Homo sapiens: one gene and its partners. The protein of the gene in region 4 purifies or fractionates together with the protein of the main gene of each other region. This does not show direct contact. Each region holds a gene or a part of one and is shown on either strand. Other genes may lie near its edges.

Region 1 (4,758 bases), about 19 Mb from region 4:
AGCCCCTCCCCCGAGGATGTGGCCACCGCTGAGGAGCCCGCGCTGGCAGCACAGAGGGCGCCCCGGGCGCGGAGCCACCTGGTCGGGTTTTCTGGTCAGGAGGGCTCGGCCCGCAGGCACCTTGGCAGGAGCGGGCGCCAGGAACGCGGCGGGAGGCAGCGGCCCTCGTGTCTGCAAAAGACAGACACTGTCTGAGCGTGGGTCCACACTTCCCCTCCCAGTTTGGTGCTGGCTTTTCTCTCCTCCCTGTCCCCCTCCGGGGTCCCAGGACAGAGGAAACCACAGCCACCTCCCTCAAATGCTGCCAGGCCATTATCTCATCTCATCCTCACACAGCCCAGAGAGGGTGACGCTGCTCTGGCTGCCGCCATTTTAAGAAGTTGATAATCCAAACTGCGGGATTAAGTGACTTGCCCAGCAGCTAGAAAGTGGCAGAGCAAGGACTTGAACCCATGTCGGAAAGTCAGTGGTCCTAACCATAATGCATCACTGCCTGGGGTGAAGCCCTAGGGTCTAGTTTTTTTTTTTTTTTTTTTGTGCCAGTGCTGCCTGAGTGCTTTGAGAGGAGTTTCTGCCCACTTTGTGATTCCCAGAGGGTAGGATTCAATGAGCTACAGGAAACCTTCCAGCTGGGTGGGGTCTCTGCACATCCACACCCTTCAGCTTCAAGCCTCAGGAAGAAAGGAGCCCAGTCCCGGGTTCTTAGGGTTTCAAGGGGCCACCTGTACCCACAAAGAGGCCAAGGCCAACTTACCCTTCACCTTCTTGCTTTTGGGGATGGCATCTGCTGGGGGGGACCTTCTTTTAGCTATGCGCTTGGGTGACATCTTCCTGTCCTGAAAGTCAGTCAAATACTACATATGAGAAATGGCAAACATTTTCCTGGGCCAATCAGACAATATTTATCAAACACTCTAGAAATACGTTAAGAGGAATTGCCCAACAATTCCACTTCTCAAAATGTATCCCAAGAACAGAATAATGGATGCACCCACAGATTAATTACACAAATATTCTCTACTGTATCCTTCATAACATTTTAAAAACAACAAAAACAGAACCCGAATGTTCAATAGTAGTGAACTAAATATGTGGTATATTCATGATAGAACAGTATGAAGCCATCAAAAGTGATGTTTTCAGAGATCAATCTATTGAATAGAAAGATGTTCCCCATTGCCAAGTAAAACAAGCAGAATGAAAAACAGACGGCCAGGTGTGGTGGCTCACATCTGTAATCCCAACACTGTGGGAGGCCGGGGCGGGCGGATTACCTGAGATCAGGAGTTCCAAACCAGCCTGGCCAACATGGCAAAACCCCGTCTCTACTAAAAATACAAAAATTAGCCAGGCACAGTGATGGGCACCTGTAATCCCAGCTACTCAGGAGGCTGAGGCAGGAGAATCGCTTGAACCCGCGAGGTGGAGGTTGTGGTGAGCCAAGATCGAGCCACTGCACTCCAGCCTGGGCAACAGAGCCAGACTGTCTCAAAAAAAAAAAAAAAAAAAAAGCCTGGGCGCGGTGGCTCACGCCTGTAATCCCAGTACTTTGGCACTTTCGGAGGCCAAGGTGGGTGGATCACTTGAGGTCAGGAGTTCGAGACCAGCCTGGCCAACATGGTGAAACCCCGTCGCCACCAAAAAAAAAAAAAAAAATACAAAAATTAGCCAGGCATGGTGGTGTGCGACTGTAATCCCAGCTACTTGGGAGGCTGAGGCAGGAGAATTGCTTGAACCTAGGAGGTGGAGGTTGCGGTGAGCCAAGATCATGCCATTGCACTCAGCACTCCAGCCTGGGAGAAAGAGTAGTGAAACTCCACCCCCCAACCAAAAAAAAAAAAAAAAAAAAGGAAGAAAAACAGCCTATCATCCATTTTTTTTTTTTTTGGAAAAAAAATGCATACACAAAAAATATGTGAGAAAAATGTGGGGAAGAAAATATATCCCATATTAACAATGGTAACCTCGGAAAATGGTATTATAGATAATCATTACTTGTTTCGTTTTATCTTCCTATATTATCTAAGATGTTTAACAAGGAGCATTACATGTATTTTTCTGTTTTTTGAGACGGAGTCTCACTCTGTCGCCAGGCTGGAGCGCACAGGCATGATCTCAGCTCACTGCAACCTCCACCTCCCGGGTTGAAGCAATTCTTGTGCCTCAGCCTTCCGAGTAGCTGAGATTACAGGTGTGCATCACCATGCCCTGCTAAGTTTTGTTTTGTTTTTGTTTTTTTGAAATGGAGTCTCGTTCTGTCACCCAGGCTAGAGTGCAATGGTGCGATCTCGGCTCATGCAACCTCTGCCTCCTGGGTTCAAGTGATTCTCCTGCCTCAGCCTCTCGAGTAGCTGGGATTACAGGCACCCACCACCACACCCAGCTAATTTTTGTATTTTTAGTAGAGACGAGGTTTCACCAGTTTGGCCAGGCTGGTCTCGAACTCCTGATCTCAGTGATCCACCCCGCCTTGGCCTCCCAAAGTGCTGGAATTATAGGCGTGAGCCACTGTGCCCAGCCCAAATTTTGTATTTTTAGTAGAGACGGGGTTTCACCATGTTGGCCAGGCTGGTCCCAAACTCCTAATCTCAAGTAATCCACCTGCCTCAGCCTCCCGAAGTCCTGGGATTACAGGCGTGAGCCACTGCGTACAGCCGATTACATGTTTTTTTTTTTTTTTTTTTGAAGCAGAGTTTTGTTCTTATTGCCCAGGCTGGAGTGCCATGGCGCAATCTCGGCTCACCACAACCTCTACCTCCCAGGTTCAAGTGATTCTCCTGCCTCAGCCTCTGGAGTAGCTAGGATTACAGGCATGTGCCACCACGCCCGGCTTATTTTGTATTTTTAGTAGAGATGGGGTTTCTCCATGTTGGTCCCGCTGGTCTTGAACTCCTGACCTCAGATGATCCACCCACCTTGGCCTCCCAAAGTGCGGGATTACAGGCGTGAGCCATCGTGCCTGGCCACATGTATTTAAAAAATTTTTAAGTCTGTTGTAAAAAATTAAAACATTGAAGAACAACATTAAATGAAATATCCATCATAACTCCATTCAACCCCATGTAAGCACCAGTAACTTTGGTAATGTGTTGTTATAATCAGAGGGGGAGAAGAGCTATTTTCTTTTCTTATTTAATTGATTGATTTTTTTTAGAGACAAGGTGCCACCACACCTGTAATCCTAGCACTTTGGGAAGTCGAGGCAGGAGGATCGCTTGAGCCCAGGAGTTCAAGACCAGCGTGGGCAACATGGCGAAACCCCATTTCTATCCAAAAAATTACAAAAATTAGCCGGGCATGGTGGTGCACGCCTGAAGTCCTGGCTACTCAGGAGGCTGAGGTGGGAGGATGGCGTGAGCCTGGGAGGCTGAGGCTAAATTGAGCTGAGATTGTGCCACTGTACTTTAGCCTGGGCGAAAGAGACAGACACTGTCTCAAAAAAACAAAAACACACATGCACTGAAGATCGCGGCTGCTGTGGGAAGGTTACTCTGAGCATCAGTTGCCCGGCATGTGAGTGCCATTCCTTGGGGGCATTTCTGCCACTGCAGCCCTCAGGCCTGCTGCTTCTGGAAGAACAAGTTTGACAAACATATTGTGGTCTGGTTCCGGTCAAGCAAAATTCTGGTACCAGTTCCTCATACCATGCACCTGATGTCACCCAGCATGCGCCCTATTTTAAGGGTACAGCCGTGGTCAATGGAGAGTTCAAAGACCTAAGCCTTGATGACTTTGAGGGGAAATATTTGGTGCTTTTCTTCTATCCTTTGGATTTCTTTCTTTTTTTTTTTTTTTCCGAGACGGAGTCTTGCTGTGTCACCCAGGCTGGAGTGCAGTGGCACGATCTCGGCTCACTGCAACCTCCCCCTCCTGGGTTCAAGCCAATTCTCCTGCCTCAGCCTCCTGAGTACCTGGAATTACAGGCGCCTGCCACGACGCCTGGCTAATTTTTGTATTTTTAGTAGAGATGGGATTTCACCATGTTGGTGAGGCTGGTCTTGAACTCCTGAACTCAGGTGATCCACCCACCTCAGCCTCCCAAAGTGCTGGGATTACAGGTGTGAGCCACCGCGCCCAGCCCTATCCTTTGGATTTCACCTTTGTGTGTCCTACAGAAATTGTTGCTTCTAGTGACAAAGCTAAGGAATTTCACGATGTGAACTTTGAAGTTGTTGCAGTCTCAGTGGATTCCCACTTTAGCCGTCTTGCCTGGATAAATACACCAAGAAAGAATGGTGCTTTGGGCCACATAAACATCGCACCCTTGTCAGATTTAACTAAGCGAATTTCTCGAGACTTCGGTGTGCTGTTAGAAGGTCCTGGTCTTGCACTAAGAGGTCTCTTCATAATTGACCCCAATGGAGTCATCAAGTACTTGTTTTTGTTTGTTTGTTTGTTTGTTTTTTTGAGACAGCATCTCACTCTCTGTTGCCCAGGCTCAAGTGCAGTGGCACAATCACGGCTCATTGCAGGTTTGACCTCTTGAGCTCAGGTGATCCTCCCACCTCAGCCTCTAGAATAGCTGGGACTACAAGTGCGCATCACAGTGTCCAGCTAATTTTTATATATTTTGTAGAGACAGGGTTTTGCCAAGTTGCCCAGGCTGGTCTAGAACTCCTGGGCTCAAGCGATCTACCCGCCTCAGCCTCCCAAAGTGCTGGGATTACAACAGCTGTGAGCCACCATGCCCGGCCGGAGCCACAGTCTTTAAGGTCATGAAAAACAATCAAGTTGTCTAAGCCTCTACCTAATGTTACG
Region 2 (4,758 bases), on a different chromosome or scaffold from region 4:
AAAAACCATTCCTAAGCCGTGAAATAGATTTCATTTGGGTTCTGGATTTATGTGACCATAAAGAATTCCTTTTATACAGAATTTACAGGTATAACAATAATTGTTTTGACAAATCAAGTCGATTTTTTCACCCCAAAATAGCACGAATAACTCTTTACTGCAATTATCTTATCTTTAGAATCATTCATTCCTTATGTGGTCTCTATGACTCATAGCTTTTTCACAGTAGCCAAGGCTCTAAACTGGCCCGTGTTAAAGGAAATGAAGGAAAAAGGTGCAATGTCACACATGAGGAAGGATCTTCAAAGTTCTCTCAGTAGGTTTAATTTTACTTATATTCAATTTCCTCCCTCCTCCCACCTACAGCCTCTTAGGTTTAATTTTGGACCCAAGTAGATAATCTTGACCTTTAATTCTACGGAGATTCAGAATTTAGTTATTATTATAGAATACCTTTTACACTGGCCCACTTCTAGGAAAAATTTGGTCAAACTGATTCATCTTCCCCCAAGGCAGACTTTAAAAAGGACTCTTGTTGTGTGTAGTTCTTCCCAATTCCTTTCCTTCATTACGAAAACTGAGTTGGCTAGGATTGTATTTATCCTCACTAGGAGCTCTAGAACAGAGGTGGTAGTACCCCTATTAGATTTCTCTCCTTTGTAAAAGACAGAAACCATAACCTCCCCTTACAACCAAGGCTGATCTAGACACCACAGTCCCTCAAGAGGAGGAAATCCATAGTACCACCTGCCTTATGCTAAGCTTCAGCCACCCACAAGAATTTCCTGACTTAGGAGTTAGTTGAAACCTTGTAAACCCTTTTCCCTATCTCTCTTGGGCGGCACAACAGGCCATCATAAAGCAATATGGTATAAAGGGAACAACACTGGACTATGGGTAACAAAAAGTAGGGATCTTGTCAAACATAAACTATATAAACGTTTCATCCATTTCCATGGAGCAACCAAAATGATCTTTTCAAAACATAATCATTTTATTTCACTTCTTTGCTTAAATTTCTCAATGGCTTCCTCAAGTACTTTAAATAAAATTCAAACTCTTTACCATAATCTATAAGGTCATTTATGTTCTCATCCCTGTTTTTTTCCAATCTCATCTCCTACTAGACCCTTTGCTCATTATGCTTCATTAACACTGGCCTTTTTTTTTTTTCTTTGAGACGGAGTCTTGCTCTGTCGCCCAGGCTGGAGTGCAGTGGCACTATCTCGGCTCACTGCAAGTTTGGCCTCCCAGGTTCACGCCATTCTCCTGCCTCAGCCTCCCGAGTAGCTGGGACCACAGGCGCCTGCCACCATGCCCAGCTAATTTTTTTGTATTTTTAGTAGAGACGAGGTTTCACCGTGTTAGCCAGGATGGTCTCCATCTCCTGACCTGTGATCCACCTGCCTCGGCCTCCCAAAGTGCTGGGATTACAGGCGTGAGCCATTGCGCCTGGCCAACACTGGCCTCTTTTATGTTCCTCAGACATGCTAAACTCTTTCCCATTTCAGACTGTGTACAGCTAGTCTCTCTATCCAAAATGATCTTTCCCCAGTTCTTCACATGGTTGGCTCAAGCTGCCTCCTTCTTATCTTTCAAAACAAATCAAATGTCACCTCATCAAAAAGATCTCCCAACCAACCTGTCTAAAAGTAGTCATGACTGCACATATATCCATTCACCCTTTCACTCACTAGTATATCACTGAGTTTCTTTCTTTCTTAGCACTCAAATCATCTTATTTAATAACAAAAATATTATTATCATTATAGCTAATACCTAGATATGCTTTCTCTGTACAGGCACTGGTTAACTTATTTAAACCTCACAACCATTAAACCTAATGTTTTTATATACAAAGAAATTGTGACACAAAAGGTCACACAGCTAGTATAAAGAGCTGAGGTTCATACCCAAGCATTCCAGCTACAGAGCTCACACTCTTAACTACTATGCTATACTCCCTTTCTGTTCATTTAATTCTTTATTGTTGGTCATATAAGCAACTGAAACTGAAATCTTATCCATCTGATGAACAAGTGTCTGATGTGTAGATAGCAGTCGATGATATTTATCACCTAACTCTGCCTGCATAGTAAGAACAGTGGGATTTTCTTTCTTTCTTTTTTTTTTTTAACACTCCTCTCAGCTCATACCTAAGGGATTTTCCACTTATATCTTTAGTAAGGTAACGAGTATTGCTGAATATCTAATAAATGGTCCTTCTTTGCTTGTCTAAATTCTTTAGATATAATTATTAACCCAGTCCTTTCTCCCTTTAAAAGTTACTCCAACTTACACTGCTGTCCCTGATTCTAATCATATATACATATATGATAGCAATATACTACTGAAATGGCATTAAGATGGAAAAAAAAGAATCTTCCAATATTACAAGAATCTCTGAGGTCCAAAAAATTTACAACATTCTACTCTTGTGTCTTGGGATTGGCTTGACTTCTAACTACAAGATAGCAAATTGCAGATACGGGATAACCACCATTGAGTACCCATAACTAGAAAATTGGGGAAATAAGCATATTTTTCTTTAGTAATTATGGATGGCAGAGCATCAAAACAGAAGGCAGGATAGGGTAGTGTGAAGAAACAGGCTTTAGAGTTAAACAAATCTAGAGTTACACTGCAACTTTACTATTTAACAGGAAGGAAGAACCCTGAAGAGTCTGAGAGTCTGTTTTCTTATCCAGAAAATAAGGAATGATAATTCTTACTTCAAGAAGTGTTGTGTACATTAAGTATGGTAAGTTAAATGACTGACACATAGTACAAGCCATCAAACCAAGTTCCAAGCATAATAACTTCCCCCCATTCCAAATAAGTACCTTAGTTATCCTACACTAAATTTTAGCTTAAGTTTAATTCAAAAAAACTTATTTAAGCACCAGGCAGTAATATCAATATGAATGACAACTAACATGTATTGAGTACTTATATGCTAGATACAGTTCTAAGCACTTCACCTGTTATAGCTCATTTAACTCTCACAATCTATACGATGTACAGTACCTCAGTTTTACAGATAGAAAAGTAATTGACATAAGGACATACAATCTAAGTAATTCACTGGAAAACATATTACATAGAAAATTATAAAGCCAGGATTAAATGCTAGGTGGTCTGATTCCAGGCCCCATGCTCTTATCACAAAGCTATATTTTTTCTTTGGCGGCAGACAGACAAGTAAGGCGTTTTCCCTTGCCTTCAGGGAGCTCTAGTTCTGTTTTATATGAATTTTATTAAGTCATTCCAAATCACCCCAACTTCAAATTTTATTTTGCTTTGCTTATTGCTACAGTCAACCAAGCACTAACAGAGGTTTCTTATTACATAATCAAGTCCCATAACCAAATTTTACATATACTTTCACCAAACAAGCAGTTTCCATGAATAGAAGAGGAAAAAAAAAGGTATCTAAAGTGTATGGGTAGATTCTAGGCAGAGTAAATAAAGCTCAGTAAAAGTTTCCCTACTCTGTGGTGGCAACAAAAGAACTATTTCTCCCTTCTGAAGGAATTATTAATGATTGTCCCTACTATCCCAATTATAAGTACGGCTATACATAGTTGTACTTGCAAGTCTTAAGGAGGAAATTCAACTAAATTTTAACTTTATAAAGTCCATTCTATAGAAACAGATTTACCTTTTACTTGTGTAAGATCAATCCCTTTCTCTACTGCCAACTTCTTTGCAAGAGGGCTAACAAACACCCTTCCCTTTGGTCCAGCAGGAGTAGCTGGGCAGGGTGCTGAAGGTGTAGGAGCTAAAGGCTGGGGAGTTGGAGGAACAGCGGCCACCTTTTGAAAAAAAATTACAAATTGTTTTAATTCACCACTTCAAAGACTGGTCTGAAAGATTAAAAGTTTACATCTTATTAATAAATTAAAACTATTTTAATTAAATATTAATAACTTTCATTTTTCCAAAGATCATAATGTACTTTTCGCCAGCTTAACCAACATAATGTAGTAATACGAACAGCGAGAACAATATACTTCTATATCAAAGACAGAACAGTTACCTTATTCCATAACAACATGAAGCACAGAATTGAATATTGCCAATCAGTGTATAGTATTCTACAGCCTTTCTTCACTTTAATCTCTTACCACTTCTTTATTCGCATTCTTTTACATCACCAACATGATTTTTATTTTTAATTATCCTAACTTCTTTTTTTTTTTTCTTTTTATTTGAGACAGAGTCTTGCTCTGTCACCCAGGCTGGAGTGCAGTGGCGCAAACTTGGCTCACTGCAACCTCCGCCTCCTGGGTTCAAGCAATTCTCCTGCCTCAGCCTCCCAAGTAGCTGGGATTAAAGGCACGCACCACCACGCCCAGCTAATTTTTTGTATTTTCAGTAGAGATGGGGTTTCACCATGTTGGCCAGGCTGGTCTTGAACTCCTGACCTCAAGCGATCCACCTGCCTCAGCCTCCCAAAGTGCTGGGATTACTGGCATGAGCCACCACACCCAGCCAGCTAATTTCAAAATATAAAATTATGCTGTAAGGCCCCATGTTGAAAAGTATCTTAAGAAATACGGCCAGGTGTGGTGGCTCACACCTGTAATCCCAGCACTTTGGGAGGCCGAGGTGGGTGGATCACCTGAGGTCAGGAGTTCGTGACCAGCCTGGCCAACACGGTGAAACCCCTTCTCTACTAAAAATAAAAAAATTAGCCGGGCATGGTGGCTAACACCTGTAATCCCAGCTACTCGGGAGGTCGAGGCAGGAGAATTG
Region 3 (4,383 bases), on a different chromosome or scaffold from region 4:
CACATACACACAGCCTCCAGAGGCACGTGGTTCGTTGCTAACATTCCCAAAAGGTATCTTGTACTGGTTCACACTACACCTCCATCTGATTCCTCAGTTGTGAGCTGTTTCTTTCTCCTAGTCTCAGCCACCAACCCCTTCAGAAGTGGCTCCTGAAAACTTTGAGGGGAGTTAGAAAATGACTTTGAAGCTCTGGTCAGTTCACTGAACCTTTTTATTCATTACCACGAATATAGCTGTAAATATTTAAAGAATCCATTCTAAATACATGCATTCATTTGTTTTTAAAAGAGGAGCTTGTTAAGAATGGGTTTTATATTGTTTATAATTTTATGTATTTTGGAATTTATATATTACTTTTGTAATTAAAAAAAACCCAAAAAACTAAGTTATCAATTTTAAACAAATAGGGAAAAGCCTGAAATTTTGGCATGGCCAACTCAGAGTGTGGAGTCAACGCAGGCATCTAATCTTAATTGTGATCTAAATGTGAGTATCGTACTTTTCTCAGTGTTTAGAAAAGATGTTTTAAATAATTTAGAGTAAGTATATGCTTGCAATTTTGTATCCAGAATTCCAAGCAAATGCTTCCTGTGGCATTTTTTTTTTTTTTTTGGAACAGAGTCTTACTCTGTTGCCCAGGCTGGAGTACAGTGGCGCGATCTCAGCTCACTGCAACCTCTGCCTCCCAGGTTTAACCGATTCTCCTGCCTCAGCCTCCTGAGTAGCTGGGATTACAAGTGTGCACCATTTTTGTATTTTGTTTTGTTTTTAGTAGAAACAGGGTTTCACCATGTTGGCCAGGCTAGTCTCAAATTCCTGACCTCCAGTGATCCACCTTGAGTCTCAGTCTCCCAAAGTGTTAGGACTGCAGGCATGAGCCACCGTGCCTGGTCTTGTTGACTGTTCTTTAAGGCTGTAATAAGGCACAGAACTGGGCTGAGGCTGTGGCTGCAGCCCTTTCCCTCTACGTTGTCCCCATAGAGGCTAGACATTTTAAGGTCAGTGGAGCACTACCAAATCAAAAGAGCCTCTTAAATTGTCTTCTACTAAAAAATTTTAATAGTAGCATATTAATATTTTTAAATGTTTTAGTATCATCTCATTTCAAAAACTATATCTATTGTTCTTATATATAAGAAAAACAATGATTTTATTTTAAGTTGTTTATTTTAAGATAATTTACAAATATCTTGCTGTCTTCAGTAATTCAAATAATGGAGGAACAGTTTCTTCGGACAAAGGCAGCAGTAAGCTAAAAACAAAATCAACTGGCTGAATTTTCCTTCTTTACCTGAAAAACAAAGTACAGAACAAGTAAGAAATCAAACAGCATTTTTTGGGAAAATAATGTCAAGAGATAATAATACATATTTAAGTGGGGTACAGAGAACTGAATTTACACAATAAAGTGTTACCCTATACCAGTGATTCTAAAATTTTGGTCTGGGGAACCTTTCATGGGGTTCATGAGGTCAAAACTATTTTCATGATAATGTTATTTTGCCTGTTATATTCTCATTCTCGAGTATACAGTAGAGTTTTCCAGAGGCCACATGATCCATGACATCACAACAAAATGAATAGAGACAGATGAAAATCTAGCTGGCTTCTGCTACATGAATCAGACATTAAGGGGTCCAGAGACCATAAAGTGTGACAACCACCACTCTTCACAACCTATATATAATATCTCAAAATAATGTTAATTCTCTATCCTCAAAGTTTATTTCCTTATATCTACATTTTCTATGATCAACACACTCACTACAAAAAAGTCCACTAGCGTTGCCCAGGTGCTCCCGTGAGTTGGCTGCTACTGTGAAGTGGCCCATCCATCTAAATCTCTCAGAGGACAATTCTAGGATTACTAAATTAGCTTAACTTATATCTGAATAGGTTTCTTTTCTGAACAGACATGGGAAGAATGTGTGAACTTTACCTCTTGTCTGAGGATGGAACTTGATTTTCATTAATCCCTGGTTATTATATTAGAAGAAAAAGACAAACACAAAACAAGCAGGTCAAGAAGCAATCCATGCTAGTTAATCACATATGCTTTCCAATGAAAAAAAGTCAATTGTTAAACTTGATACCTTGAGTACATCATGCAAAAATACTTACCACAAGATTCCTTTGAAACAGACTCAATGACTGTTATAAAAAGTCATAGATTTCAATCCAGGTTAGAAGCAATAAAAACATGCTCATGCAAGTAGGCAAGACTATGAATATGTAATTTAAATTACAATTTTTCTATAAATTAACACAATATATTTAGAGGTTTTTTTTTTTTTTGGAGATGGAGTCTTGTTCTGTTGCCCAGGCTGGAGTGCAGTGGCGTGATCTCAGCTCACTGCAACCTCCTCCTGGGTTCAAGTCATTCTCCTGCCTCAGCCTCCCGAGTAGCTGGGATTACAGGTGCCCGCCACCACGCCCAGCTAATTTTTGTACTTTTTTAGTAGAGACGGGGTTTTGCCATGTTGGCCAGGCTGGTCTGGAACTCCTGACCTCAGGTGATCCACCCGCCTCGGCCTCCCAAAGTGCTGGGATTACAGGCATGAGCCACTGCGCCTGGCCATATTTAGTTTTTAGGCTGGCAACTAATACTTGGACCTCGAATACTATGGTTTACTCATGTTCTTAATTATATTACTAAATAGCCAAATATGTTTATTTTGTTTTTTGATCTTTTTCTTTTCCAAGTATGTTTAAATATTCAAGTCTTGATTCAGAATAACTGATAGGTTACAGAGCATGCAAACCCATTCACAAGCAATCCAACCTTGGCACTGCATAGCTAAGTTTTTGTATAAGGATTTAGACTACCTTCCTAGGAAGCAAAAACTTAATACTCAATTTCCAATTATGTGGATTCCTTTTTCTAAATTCTTGGTTTTGTGCAGTGGCACGATCATAGCTCACCGCAGCCTAAAACTCCTGGGCTCAAGCAATCCTCCTGCCTCAATTTCCTGAGTAGCTAGGACAACAGGCACATGCCACCAGGCCTGGCTAATTTTTTCATTTTTGTAGAGATGGGGTCTTGCTATGTTGCTCAGGCTTGTCTTGAACTCCTGGGCTCAAGCAATCCACTCGCTTCGGTCTCCCAAAATGCTGGGATTACAAGCATGAGCCAATGCACCCAGCTGTTTCTGTTACTTTTAAATAGGTTTCCTGCATTTCTTTTTTTTTTTTTTTTTTTTTTTGAGAAGGAGTCTTGCTCTTTTGCCCAGGCTGGAGTGCAGTGGCGCAATCTCGGCTCACTGCAAGCTCCGCCTCCCAGGTTCATGCCATTCTCCTGCCTCAGCCTCCATAGTAGCTGGGACTACAGGCGCCCACCACCACGCCCAGCTAATTTTTTGTATTTTTAGTAGAGACGGGGTTTCACCGAGTTAGCCAGGATGGTCTCAATCTCCTGACCTTGTGATCCGCCCACCTCTGCCTCCCAAAGTGCTGAGATTACAGGCGTCAGCCCCTGCGCCCGGCCAGGTTTCCTGCATTTCTAATGAAGAAATAGGCTGGTCCTCAATTTTGCAGAAGTTGTATCATCATAGGTCATACCTAACATTCGTTTGTCAAGAGCAAAAAAACCCCCTTGGGTTCTCTGGATCTCACACAGCCCACAAACCTTCAGAATGTGGTTCCTTCCCGCAGGCTTTGTCACACTTAAGATCCAAGAACAAATCAGCCTGGCTTTAACATGGGGTAGATGGCAAGAAGGATAATGGCTAATAGAAGGTTTTAGTCCTTGTATTAGTCCCCATGTTACAGATGACAAAGCTGAGTAACAGAGAGAGTATCCTAACCAAGTTCATCAAGCTAGACACCATGAGACAGTATTCTGTGATGCTGATAGAACATTGGTGACCAGGCTGTGAATGGGTTAGTCCTAACACAGCTGTGCTTAGAAAGTAAAATAAGAGAAGAATGCTTAGGATAGCGAGGCTGATGGATCCAACTAACAACTTACACAAAGGTCTCTGTTGGCTCAAAAAGTTCTAGTTGTGTCTCTCTGGCATTCTGCCCAGTTTCTGCCCTTGAAAAGTAACACTTAAGGAACACTTTAAATAGTGATGAACTTTTCCCTGACTCTTAAAACCATGGACCCACATTTTCATACACCCAATAAAATGTTATTTGTCCCTCTTCTGAACTTCCAGTTCTGAATACATATGGCATTTCATTCATTCATTCAACATTCACGAAGGAGGTATGTACCAGGCAATGGGGACACAAAAGTGAATAAGATATGGTCCCATCCTAGCCTCGAGGAGCACACAGACAAATAAAAAGCCAATTCCTCATACAAGGCTGTAAGAGCTAAGCTAAATGGAAGACAGGATGCTGCAGAAGGCTGCCTCACTCAGACTGAAGGAAGGAGTG
Region 4 (4,758 bases):
TCACCTCAGTGGTCAGTCTGTGAATCAGCTCATCCATGCCACACTTACTGCCTGATCATCTCTTTCTCTCTCCTACACGCACACAGGCATGCACATGCATGTGTGGGTGTTCACACACACACACTTTTAATGGGAAGGATCACCATCCCCTGCCCATGGTACCTCTGAAGCTGCCTTTCCAAACCATAGCAGGCCCTAGCCCAGCTGACTGTTTGCCAAAGGCCAGACCCAGCCTGGGAAAAACACAGCACAACTGCAGGGCAGTTCTACCCTGGGCGGCCTCTGAGGAAATTACTTGCTGCTTTCAGGCCTCCAGGCCAGACAGAGAGCATCCCTCAGCAGTGACATAGGGAGGACAGTCCCTCCACCATGGCTAATGCTGGTGATCTTGAGGGAGCTCCTAGTTGGGGAGGGGGTACTTATGACTGCTGTCACAGCTGGAGCTAGACTACATCCAGAAGGGGAGATGGTGGGGAAGTGGTCAGGACTTATTCCAAAGCTTAAGACCAGTGTTATGAGGGTGGTCCAGGACTTAGCTGTGTGACCCAGGACTTAGCTGTGTGACCTTGATCAAGCTGGGTAACCTCTCTCAGCCTCAATTTCCTTATCTGTGAGATGTAAACAATAATATTGCCCTCATGAGCTTGTGGTAAGGAATAAACAGAAATCAAGCACACATAGTCCATGGCACATAGTAGGTGTCCAATACATGGTAGTAGCAATTCAGCAACAGGAATCCACATCAAGTCCTAACTCTAGATCTTGCATTAGTTCTACTTCTATGGACTCTTTTTGGGTTCAATCTCTAATTTCAGTGTCCCCTAGACACATCCTGCACACTCATACCCTACCCTTCGCCTACATGTCTGCCTATTCCTCTCTGGTTTTATTCCAGAGAACCACCCCCTCTCCTCACCTTCCTCTTTCCTGAGTCTGTCTACCCCTCCTGGTGTCCTCTGCCTCTCTCTGGCCAGCACTGAGTAGGTGCTCGGTAAATATTGCCAACACTTATGGATAATGACTGCCCTACACTCCTGCACACCCCACAAACCCTCGCCCCTATGCTCTGCCTCTTCTGCCTATTGTAGAAAATGCCTCATCCCTGGGGAACTTCAGGGCTGGTCCTGTCTTCTTCCTGTTTGGTACACCCACCTCTCTTAGACTAGAGAACTCCTCTCTAATCTAGCAGAAGGCACCCCTGCCTCTCAGCCCTGCACACCTGTGCCCCAGGCTGCTTGGGTCTTTTGAAGTCTTTTCTGTTGTGCAGATCCCAGCCCCGCTCCTCTCCAGAACACCACAGAGGGCTCCACTCCAGAGGCTCCAGCTCCATACTCATATTCCTCCCACCAGTTTGGAGCATAAATCCCAGCCTTGCTCTGAGGCCTTGGGCAGCCTTCCTACAGGAGCCCCAGGCCACAGCCAAGCTGAAGTTCTGGGGGCATCTGGGTCTGGCTCAAAGTCCCTCAGCTCTGAAGTGCCTGCTCTCCTACCCCTGGTGCTGGGACCAATCTACTATACAAGGTCAACCTTGGAAAGATGGCGAGGGTCTTCCAAATCTCCCATTTGTCCAAACCACCCCTGCAAGTTCAGGGAATATTCAAGTACCTCAAAGGAGCAGTGCCAAGGCCCTTCTCGGGGAATCCAGGGGGCAAGGTAGAATCCATGATGTCAGGAAGGGAACTCCAGGTCTAAGCCCAGAATGTGTTAACGGGAGACAAGGGGAGCCTACTGTGTAGGGACCTCGGAGAAAACCCTTGATGACTCCATTGCAGGGAGGAAGCAGACTCCAGACTCTAAGGAAGACTTGGGAGGAAGTGCAGGGAATCCCTGAGGGTCAGTGCCTAGAATGGGGGATCGGGGGACACTGTGTGATTCTGCGCCCACTTGGGATCCTTGCCAAAGTGTAGGAATGGAGCCCGGACTGGGGACTGGAACTAACTCCAAAGGTTTGGGAACTAACTCCAGAGGTTTGGGCTAAGCGCCATTATGTGTCTCTCTCCCATGCCTCCTCTTTGCAGGACTGTGAGTGTGGTCCTGCTAGCCCCATCCAGGACTTTACTTAGCCCTAGCTCAGCTGCAGGGTGAAGGGCTTCGGCAGTTTGGGTTTGGAAAGTGGCCCGCCCATCTTTGTGAGATACCTACGGAGTAGTCCCAGATGTTCCCTCCTCCAGAGGGCTCTAACCAGCGTGAGGGGCAGGTACAACGGTGGGGTGGGGCAGACTCACCATCAGTAATCTCCATCTCATAGGGGGAAGGTCTCCTCTTCACTCGATTGTTGGTGGTGAACATAGGGAAGGCATCCGGCTCCCCAAAGAACCCGCTGTGGGAGGGAACGGGCAGATCACAAGATCCCATGTTGAGGGGAGGGGAGAAAGAGCTTCCTTAGGGATCCTCCCCACATGTCTTGAGCCCCCCACCTCTGGGCAACCCTGGTCCCTTCACACTTGAGCTGGGAATAGGCACACACAGACACACACACACACATACACACGGAATGCCCTCACTCTGTCTGTCATAAAACAAGCAAAGGGAGGAAAAGACACCTAACCACACATCCCTCCACACAAACACAGGCACATATGCAGAAGCAGAGGTGAATAACACATGGAATAAACACAAAAATGAACACACACACACACACACACACACACTTCACAGATAGAAACACTCTCCATTCTCCCGCCCCAGAAACAAGCACATAATCCACACACACCTCCACTCCCAAACACATGCCCACTCAGGCAAATGTAACCTTCACACCTGATGGTGTGCATCTTGGTCACCACAAAGGGGCACACTGTCCCCTCTCCCCACCTCACCCCACCCATAAGGGGCTGTAGATACACAACAGACAGGAAACCCTGACTCCCCTCAGCTGAAATGCTCCGCCTAGCTCTCTGCCCTCACCCACCCTAAGCTCCCCATAGCTCTGTCTCGGGTGCCCGCCAGGTTCATTGACTGCCCCACACTCTATCCCTGCCCCATCTGCCGGTTTCTATTCCAACCCTATGGCTTCTCTCCCTCATCATCACAGTAGCGCCAGCAGGGAAACGGATGCCCTGACACCAACCGGAGTACAGGCTGGGGCCAGAGACCACGGCTAGGAGCAGAGGGGCTGGGAGTGGAGGGACAGGTCAGTCCTCAGGCGGGCCCTCCAGCAGAGATTCGGGGGAGGGTGCCTCTGCCACCACCCTCAGATCCTTATCTCTTGCCTGTCCAGCTAGCGCTGAGTTTCCGAATGAATTTCACACCACAAACATCTACCTCTGCTCACAGCAAAGCACATGCAGGCACACTCTTTCCTGGTACCCACGCTCAGGGGACTCCTTCCTCTCCGTCCCCCACGACACCACCACCAAGCACACCAGCCACATGCCTGCACCCGCGAAGGTGTCCACGTCCTCCTCTCGGCTTCCACACAGCCATGCACCCCGCAGCCACACGCACACTCTCTCTCACAGAAGGCCCCTCCCTCACTGGCACTCACTCGGGGGCTCCAGCTTGAGGCTCTAGAGCCACTGGGTTTAAAACGACCTCCTCTCCCTGCGCTCCACCCGCTCGGCCCCCAGGGCAGGCCGCCGCCGATGTGTAGAAGGAAACCCCGGTGGGGGTGGTCGCCCTGCCCACCCGCCCAGCCCCTGGCCCCTGGCCCCTGGCCCCTGACCTGCCGAGAGAGGCCAGCGGCTGGCTGAGGCTGTAGAGCAGCGCGCGGCCGGGGGCGGCGGGGGCAGCCAGCGCGGGAGGACTCAGCTGCACCATGCGGCCGTCGCCGGGCAGCTCCGCTGTAACCGAGGCGGGCGCGGGGGCCGGGGCGGGCCCGGGAGGTCTGCACAGCTCGGTGGTGGGCACCCGATGGCGCGCTTCGGCCGTCGCCGCGTCGCGGCCCTTTAAGTCTCTCGCGGCGCCGCCCCCACCGGCAGGGCCGCCCCCCGGGCCTCCGCGCGCGCCCAGTTCGATGACTGGGGGCTCCGCTGCGGCCGCGCGGCTCGTCTCCTTGGCGACGCCGTTCAGCAGGACCAGGTGCGGGGGGGCCATGCTGGCCTCGGCCGCGTCCCGTCCCTCTAGCTGGGGGTCACTGCGAGCCGCCTCGCTCGGCGGCCGCTCGGTCATCCTGTGGGCAGACAGACAGACAAGCGGATGCCCGCTCTGACGACCGCCCCTGACCCACCGACGTGGGCTGGGGTAAAGGGGAGAAGGGCAGAGAGAGGAACTCACGCACCGAGACGTGAGAAGAGGCAGACAAAGTTAGCGCCACGTGGGGCTAGGGCGGGAGGCCGGTTGGGGCTAGGGTGGGAGGGAAAGAGGGTCTCTGGATTGGGAGAAGGGAGGGGTGCCTGGGAGACACAGAGACTGAGGGCCAAAAGGACAGAGATGGAGGAAGACGACAGAGACACCGGAAGAAAAGGAATACAGCCAGCGACAGAAACACAGAAGGGGAAATCAGGAGGAAGGAAATGTACAAGGAGGCAAGAAAGAGATTACTCTGTCCCCTTTCTCAGGCCTAAAGGGAAGAGGAGGGAACAAATTCCGGATCGTGCTCTTTGGTTTTAGCGGGGAATCTGTCAGGCAGGGGTTCGTTGCTTTAGGAACCTCCCTTGGCCTCTCAGCAATATTCCCAGCCCACCTACAGGCACACACCCAGAAACCCGGTGCGGATGGAAGTAGGGAATTAGAAAGTGGAGGCTACGGGGACTGGGATCCACTCCGCCAGAGCTGGCAGAGAATAATCCCGAGGAACCAGCTCCCTCCACACACACA

Evidence for each region.
Region 1: the proteins of TAL1 (region 4) and RCC1 purify together in Homo sapiens (affinity purification with mass spectrometry, with the first as the bait; one study listed by BioGRID). This does not show direct contact.
Region 2: the proteins of TAL1 (region 4) and DLAT purify together in Homo sapiens (affinity purification with mass spectrometry; one large-scale study listed by BioGRID and IntAct). This does not show direct contact.
Region 3: the proteins of TAL1 (region 4) and ATP5F1C purify together in Homo sapiens (affinity purification with mass spectrometry; one large-scale study listed by BioGRID and IntAct). This does not show direct contact.

The regions. Positions count from the first base shown.
Region 1 is NC_000001.11:28,525,936-28,530,693, reverse strand, and holds part of RCC1 (regulator of chromosome condensation), read right to left. Parts: intron 4,337-4,758; exon of another isoform or gene 4,081-4,336; intron 3,761-4,080; exon of another isoform or gene 3,456-3,760; intron 837-3,455; 5' UTR 828-836; coding exon 755-827; intron 172-754; coding exon of another isoform or gene 79-171; intron 1-78. UniProt on the Homo sapiens protein: Guanine-nucleotide releasing factor that promotes the exchange of Ran-bound GDP by GTP, and thereby plays an important role in RAN-mediated functions in nuclear import and mitosis.
Region 2 is NC_000011.10:112,038,301-112,043,058, reverse strand, and holds part of DLAT (dihydrolipoyllysine-residue acetyltransferase component of pyruvate dehydrogenase complex, mitochondrial isoform 2 precursor), read right to left. Parts: intron 3,816-4,758; coding exon 3,662-3,815; intron 1-3,661.
Region 3 is NC_000010.11:7,804,570-7,808,952, reverse strand, and holds the end of ATP5F1C (ATP synthase F(1) complex subunit gamma, mitochondrial isoform L (liver) precursor), read right to left. Parts: intron 1,980-4,383; coding exon 1,973-1,979; 3' UTR 1,943-1,972; exon of another isoform or gene 1,937-1,942; intron 1,295-1,936; coding exon of another isoform or gene 1,291-1,294; 3' UTR 1,152-1,290; downstream 1-1,151.
Region 4 is NC_000001.11:47,221,779-47,226,536, forward strand, and holds part of TAL1 (T-cell acute lymphocytic leukemia protein 1), read right to left. Parts: intron 4,112-4,758; 5' UTR 4,111-4,111; coding exon 3,665-4,110; coding exon of another isoform or gene 3,488-3,664; intron 2,321-3,487; coding exon 2,226-2,320; intron 1-2,225. UniProt on the Homo sapiens protein: Implicated in the genesis of hemopoietic malignancies. It may play an important role in hemopoietic differentiation. Serves as a positive regulator of erythroid differentiation.